2 linked regions of the Homo sapiens genome follow. The protein of the gene in region 1 interacts with the protein of each later gene in a pairwise test. Each region holds a gene or a part of one and is shown on either strand. Other genes may lie near its edges. The genes, in order: DAZL and PUM2.

Region 1 (3,919 bases):
CACAGGAAAAACCTATACATAATGTGAAATATAATTTTTGTATTTTAAGTATAAAATATTTTATATAAATTACTTTCATTCTAAGTTAGTTCAGGCTCAGGATTTAAACTTATCAGAGTAGATCAGCATGAAATTTTAATGAAAGGATATAGTACTTTTTTTTTTTTTTTGAGAGAGTCTCGCCCTTGTCACCCAGGCTGGAGTGCAATGGCGTGATCTCGGCTCACTGCAACCTCTGTCTCCCAGGTTCAAGCGATTCTCCTGCCTCAGCCTCCTGAGTAGCTGGGATTACATGCGCCCGACACCACGCCCGGCTAATTTTGTATTTTTAGTAGAGATGGGGTTTCTCCATGTTGGCCAGGCTGGTCTCGAACTCCCGACCTCAGGTGATCCACCCGCCTTGGCCTCCCAAAGTGCTGGGATTACAGGCGTGAGCTACCACGCGCAGCCAGGATACAGTACTTTCTTAAACCCAGTATTGCTCATTACCGAGTCTTGCACAATGCTGTGGAAGAATACTTAGTATTTGTGAAAATACTATGTGAATTACTTAAAAAAAAAACAAACCCAAAATTGGAAAGTTCAGATTTGTAAAAATCAAAATTAAAATCATCCTGTTCTATATTCATAAACAACTTTTCATTTTACTGAGTACACTAATAAAAAGGATGACAAATATTAAAAAACTCCAAAAAGCCACATCAAAAAGAAAATAAGCCTCAAAGTTTTAAACCAATTTGTCCTGCTTCGCCTTTTTCACCAAAATTAACATGAATTTTTACAATTTTAACGCTGTGTTAGTATGCCTGCTTTACTTTGGAAATGGATCATGGAAACATTATTTGCTCACATGTCACAGCTCCTTCTAAAAAAAGGATTATAATCCTCTTCCCTAATGCTAGGGTGTTCAAATCATTTTTTGAAATAACATTTTTCTTCCTAACACCAAATCAGTCCCACTGATAATTCTAATTATCACAGTAGGCAGATATAAATTATACCATCTTTATTTTCAGATAAAGAAACACACATATAACTCATTTTTTCTGGATTTTGATCAGAACTGTCTTTATTCTTTCCGCAGTAGACTCTAAGGCTAATGTAAAATTTTCTGAAGTAGAATTTGTAAGTAATATATATGTTGGAGAAGCAATATAGCAGAGTGAAACAAAAATTAATTTAGTCAGGAGATCTAGGTTTATGTCCCTTACAGGTAAGTGGTTACAAGCCACTTACTTGCCAGCCGTGTATCTCTGGGCAAACTGCTTTGAGAAGGAAATGAGATAACATCTGTGAATTCATTTTGTAAAGTATAAAGTGGTATATCAATATAAGTTAGTGTCCTGTTATTTGAATTTATTTTCAGATTTTTTTTCAAGTTTCTTTTTTGGCTTTACTATTTTAGCTGACTTATCTTGAAGATACTTTTAATTAAGAACGAATTGAAACATCAGGAAACTATGAAACATCATTAATTTAAAAATCATTGGTGAAGTGCCTGTTGACTACAAAAGGTAACTACAAAAAGCTGCAAAAGAGAAAGCTATTACACATATACCTGTCTGAAAGAAAACAAGACAAAAGAAAGCAACTGTTATCTTTTTGAAAAGCACAGTAATTTTATAGGAATTAATAAGAAAGTAGAGTTCCTGCTTTGTTAATTAGATGCTAGAAGTTACTGATTCTACACAGCTTTACTAGAGATGAAATCTAAATTGTCAAATCAACTAAAGCTGAGTTTATTGCTTTTCTCTATTCGTTTGTGCTTATACTTGCTATTTTGGGTTTGTAAATAATTCCTAATTCTTTCTTTTAATAGTGGTATTTCATGACAATGATGTGGAAGAAAAATTTAAAAACTATTTCTACAGTTTTTCCTTTCTAAAAATGTCTTACGTTGTTTTTCTAAATGACATTAAGCTGCGTATCTTGAACTATTAGGAACCTGATTAGATTTCCCCCCTACAGACAATTTACCAATCCCTTCTCAGTTCATTCAGAAATCCCAAACAGAATAAAACAAAACAAAATAAATTCTGAAATTCTTGTAGTTTTTTCTCCTTTTCAATTCCCCCTTGATTTGTGGATGAACTTTGGATATGTTTTTCTTTGATAAACAAGCTATATATACAGTATTGTCTCTGCATCACAGTGTTTGGATGTATTTTAATTTAGAAGTGTAACATCTGGCAGAAAACTGTGTCAGATTATAAGAGGTCATGATAATGCATTGATTCTCAACTGGGGAAGATTTTTGAGCCCTGGGGGCATTTAACAACGTTTAGAGATTGCTTGTCACAACTGAGGTGTATTCCTGGCATCTGATGGGCTGAAGGCCAGGAATACTACTGCACATCCTACAATGCAAAGAAAGCTTCCTACAACAAGGAACTATTTGGTCCAAAATTTGAATAGGGTGTGGTTAAGAAACCTTGTGACAGTGCCACAAGAATTGAGGAGGAAAATTATTGTTTGGGAAGAACCTGATTTCCATTGTTCAGTAAAGTAAGTCTTTTCAGGACCTCAGTTTCCTTGCTTGAAAATGAATGGTTGGAAAAGATCTCTGGTGTCTCTTCTAATTCTCATACCCTATACAAGAGTAAAACGGATACTTGGCGACAACAGTAGTTTGGTAAAGAGGAAAAGAGGCATTTGATATTATTAGGAAGTCTGACTTTGGCTTGGATCTTACAAACTGGCTGCCTGCTTAACTGGAATCGTAAATATAAAATTCATAGGATCACTTTAATAGCGTAATAACATCTTAAATTAAGGAGGCACCATCATGTCCTAGTTCTCAGCCAGCAGGTGGCGCTCAAAGCTAACAAAGTAAGCAATGTACTTCATTTTTACCACGGCTTGATTAGCAAGGGTTGTTAAATTCCTACTGTATTTATACATAATTATAATGTATATATAAAAATCCACAATCAATAGACAAACTTTGGTGAAACCGTGGCCAAAAATATAAATGAATGCTTAGGATAAGCAAAAGCTTAATTTTAAAGAAAGTACCATCGTAACTGTCAATAGCATCCTGAAAACAAACTGCATTAAAGAAGTAATTTTCTTAATCATACCTTCAAGTGAGTTGGTGAATTTTGAAATGAGAAATGTTGGAATAGTAAACGGGTGAGCTTCAAGACCATCATATACACAACTCTCATTGTTATTTATAGCAAACATATTCCTTGTTATATTTGGACAACCAAGTGACAAAGACAGCTAAAAGCTGGAAAAAATTATTATGTAACTCCTGGGATGTCAGCTTCTTTCACAGTATTATCTAATTCAATTACTATGTGAACATGAAAGCAAACTGAGATTTATATAAACTGACCAGGAAAAAGGCTATAATTTGTAGTTATCAAAGTTACGTTCACACCAATAGGAAGGAACGAATAAAGAGAATGCTAAAATTAAGAAAATATGACATGAAAATCAGAATCAAAACTTTAAGTAAATCCAAGAGTAGATTCTTGGGGAGTTGGGGGTGGGGAGGATGAAATTCAAGCAATAAACAATCCTGGCAAAACTAAGCAAGAAAAGGCAAGAAAGCAAAAGGATATATGAGACCTGAGAAATGGGTTATGACCACAGATTATAAAACAATGCTATGCATAAACTCTATAGAAATAAATTTGGAAATCAACGACATGACAAACTTGTAGAGAAATTTAAATTTTTACAAAACAATCTTGAGAAAAAACACCTAATGATACCTGGCTCAGTTTCCGTGGGAGTTTTTTCAACTTGTAAAGAAATAGATAACTTGGGTGTATGTTTGTGTCAGAGAGAGGTGCACATACACATCAGACACCAGAAATAAAGACAGAAAACACAGAAGAGGAGATTAAAAAATTCAAACACTTTTCTTCAATTTTCAAAGAGGAAAAAAGTATTTCTCAACGCATTTTAC
Region 2 (3,919 bases), on another chromosome or scaffold:
TGTTCAACTGCACAGGTCACGTGCCTGTGCTGAAGCTGGCCTTGTTCATGGGGATATCTGGAACATTAAATGAGACAATGTATGGAAAGTGCTTTGGTGCTTGCATGTTGTTAGTACCAAACAAATAACTATAGCTTACACGTGGCTTTTAGTAGGACTCTTGGTTGTAACAGAAATTCACTTTATCTAGCTTAAGCAAAGAAGCAGAATTTACCATAAGGATCCAGGAATGCGGCTCAGACTCCAAGGGTAGAGGCAGCCAGCCAGGCACAGAAACATGTGAAAGAGAGACATTGTCAGCACTCTCCTTTTCTCTCTCAACTCCACTCTTTCTCTACAGGTTCCCTGTCTTACAGGATGGAACCAGTCTGCCCAAGGGATCCCAGGTCCAAGAGACTTTCGAGGTTGGGGTCTCTTAGTCCCAATTCCATATTCTAAGGGAGGGCCTGTGATGGATTTATCTAGTTTCACCCACACTAAGCAACTGTATATAAAGACTCTTCTGCTATTATCAGCTCAACGGAGGGGAAAGGAGAAGGAAGGCAAAATGTGTACACCCCAGCATCTCCCATTCTTACTTGATCGTGAGACATTTCTTAAAGGAACATCTATTAACACTGAACACAGCACACTAGGGAAATGCTGTCGTGGGTGATGGGGAGCAATGAGATGGTTGAAGCAGAGGCCTGAGCGCCAGGAATTGGATTTGCATTTTAGATAGCAGTGAGCAGAACTGATTGGAGGGAGTGAGACTGGAGACAGGAAAGCTGATTAAGAGCCAGCTACAGAAATCCAGACCTGGGAAGCAAGGCTAGCATTAGTGAGGAGGCAGAGGAAGACTGTCTCCAGAATTACTTGGGAAGTAAAAATCTGCGAGGCTTGGTAAGTTATTTATATTTGGAGTCGGGGTAAGAGGAAGAGACAAGGATGGTTCTCAGAGGTGTAATTTGGGGAATGAATAGGTGGTGACACTGCCAATTACAGAGACAGTACAAGAGTGGGGGGTAGGGGATGGGTGTGACTTCAGTTTTTAACATGCTTGGTGACAAGAAAATTCAAGTGAAAATATCTAGAAGCCTGAAATATGAGCCTAAGGTAGGGGCTTGGGATGGATTTCAATGTCAGACATTTTTCAGTAATAGTTAAAAACCGAAGAGCCCATGTGTATTCAACAGGCACTTGCGGGCACAGTGTGAAACAAAACACAAGGTCCTTGCCCTCGTGGAGCTCACAGTCGCCTAGGGAAGACATATATTAAGCAAACTATACGGGAGGCCCTGAATATTTACGAAGTGCAGCATGTCAGGAGAGCCAGGAGCTGTGCAAACAAACCATCAAGAACAAATCGGACACGGTGCCTGTTACAGCTGTGTGACCTGGAGCCGGTTAGGTTAGAATCCTGGAATCACCACTGCTTTGCATGGGGGTCCAGGACAGCAAGGCAGATTTGGAGTTTCCAACTAGCCTGTAAACGGGGAAGGAGAGAGCGCTTAGTACGCGAGAAAAAGAAACAGCCAACGAGTGAGAATCACTGGCCCAGCTGGAGAACGACCTGAGTTTCCTTTGTGTGCACCGGGACCAAGCACTGGGGGCCGACAATTTGCTGAGAGCTGGCTCCACCTGCCTGGGGTGCAACCACGAGAAGAGTGACAGCCCTCTCGCAGGGTACAATCTTCCACCCCCAGATGCATCTCCCTCGTCTGGTTGTGGGGAGGTACAGAGTGAAAGTTAAAGGCCTGAATTAACGTCCGGCTCTTGTGGGCGCCAGCACTCTGGAAGCGAAATGCCAGGAGTACCCCACGGTGGGCGGCGCGGGCGCAGACACCCGCACACCCAGTTGGGGGAAAACAGTGAGCAACCGGGTAGGAAGCCGAGGGTAAGAAGATTCAGAAGGCGAGGCCCCACGCGGGAAGACAGTCGAACACAGCGTTTGGCAACAGTACGCCTGCGCTCTCCGAGCCCGCCGCGGCGGAGCCCAGGAGGGAAGCGCGAGCCCGCAAGGTGAGGGCGGGGGAGGGCACGCCGGAGAGGCGGCCAAACACGTGAGAGCGCGGAGAACGTGCGCACGCGCAGGGCGCCCCCGGCCCGCGCGGCGGCAGCGCGGGAGCAGGGACGCAAGGCATTAAAAGGAGCCGCGCCTTGGTGAGCGCTCCCCCTCCCCTTTCTCCCGGGGTGCACTGCGCGCGCCCGGTGGGCGGGGGGGAGGGGAGGGCAGGCGGCGGTGGCAGCCATGTTGTTGTGAGTCTCTGTGTCTCACCCTCGGTACTTCGGTGGTTCGGAGGAGGAGGGGGAGGAGAAGGAGGAGGTGGGGTGGGGGGGGAGGGTGGTAGGTGGAGAAAGAAGACATTGCCGCCACCGAAGGCGGAGGAGGGGGAGGACCGCCAAGAGCGACGCCGCCGTGTGCCCAACGGTCGGTGTCCCCGGCTGAGGCAGCGCGGCCGCAGCAGCCCTGTAAGTCAGTCCGCGTTCGCTCTTTCTCCGGTCCTTTGGCGCCGTCGAGGATGGCTCCCCAGGCTTTGTGCGGCGGCCTCGGCGGGAGCCGATCGCCAGCGGGAGGGCGGATAGGGCCTGCTGAGTGCCCGGGCCGGTGCGGCCTGGGGCCCGCTCGCACAATGCAGGGGGAGGGGTGCCGGAAGGGGGTGTGCGCGTGCGGGGGAGGGGGCGCCGCGCCGGCCGCTTTCCCGCTTCCTTCCCTCTGCGGGGCCGCCGCCTCGGGGGCGTGGGGCGCCGACCCGGTTCTCCCTCCGATTCGGCGCGCTGGAGGTTAGAGACCGAGCTGTCGGCCCTAGGGTTCGGAAAGAGGGGAGAGGCCGGGTGGCCCCAGAGAAGCATGCGGATTGCAAGTGGGTGAAGAGGAAGGAGTGGGTTTATGAAAACAAGTGTGGGCATTTTCAAAGGCCCGAGTGTGTCCGGGAAAAGCTTGCCGTGGACAGATGTGGGTATGAAGCAGTGACTTGGATTCGCCTTGTTTAGGTTATAGGAACGGATTTCGATATTCAGAAAAATATGTAAATTAAAACCAAAGACAAGATTAGCGGCTTCTACTATTTGAGCAGTAGTTTTGTATCTGAATTGGGTCAGGTTTTGGGGAAAATGTTTAAAGTTTCATGCCCAAACACGTGTAAAAGTTAGTGTTGTTTCTGAAAACACAGCCAGAGAAAACCTACTTAACTTAGCTTTTTATTCTAACATACGTAAACTTTTGAAGAGAGGAATGTATTGCCAGCATATTAGGTGCAATAAGACATCATGTTAGGACTTAGTACTTTGAGATTTTTACTTGTTGAGAAAACGGGGCAGATGTTTTGGTGAAGGAAAACATGAGAAAAATGCTTGTAAACGGTGAAGAGAAATGTAATACCTGTAAAGGTACTGTATGTCAAGAAAACAATTTTAATAAAGGGAGTTACCGAAGGATTTTAAAAGCTTGTTTAATGGTTAGATTTCGTGTTTAACAGGTGACTCTTCACCATGTGACCTGGAGTATTGGAAGATGACTTAAGGAATCCTGTAAATAAAAAAAAAAAAACAAAAATGAGTATTTTCAACTTGTTTCTCTTCCTAGCCTCCTTTTAAACAATGATTTACTTCATTTGCTCAATCATTATGAATAAAAATGATGGCATTTTCCGTGCTGCAAGAATTTCTTTAAAATTCCGATTTTTGGTGAAATTGCATTGTGTAGAATTTTCTTGGTGTGCATGAGGGCAGTTTTTGTATGCAGAAAAGGTTTACGATAATCTTAAAAATAAAATTTTATTTCAGAAACCTGGTTCTTGAGGATTTAAGTCCAGTTTTTAAATTTTGTTTACAGGTCTAGCTATTTTGAGTTATAATTGCCAGTAACTTACGCATTTTCCAGCAATTTAAGCTGTGTTTAACACATGCTTTCCTTAATTTGAGTCCAAAGTTCTCTTAG

The links.
Region 2: the proteins of DAZL (region 1) and PUM2 interact in a two-hybrid assay, tested with the Homo sapiens proteins (2 studies listed by BioGRID and IntAct).

What each region holds. Positions count from the first base shown.
Region 1 is NC_000003.12:16,598,633-16,602,551, forward strand, and holds part of DAZL (deleted in azoospermia-like), read right to left. Parts: intron 1-3,919. UniProt on the Homo sapiens protein: RNA-binding protein, which is essential for gametogenesis in both males and females. Plays a central role during spermatogenesis.
Region 2 is NC_000002.12:20,349,129-20,353,047, reverse strand, and holds the start of PUM2 (pumilio homolog 2), read left to right. Parts: upstream 1-2,203; 5' UTR 2,204-2,451; intron 2,452-3,919. UniProt on the Homo sapiens protein: Sequence-specific RNA-binding protein that acts as a post-transcriptional repressor by binding the 3'-UTR of mRNA targets.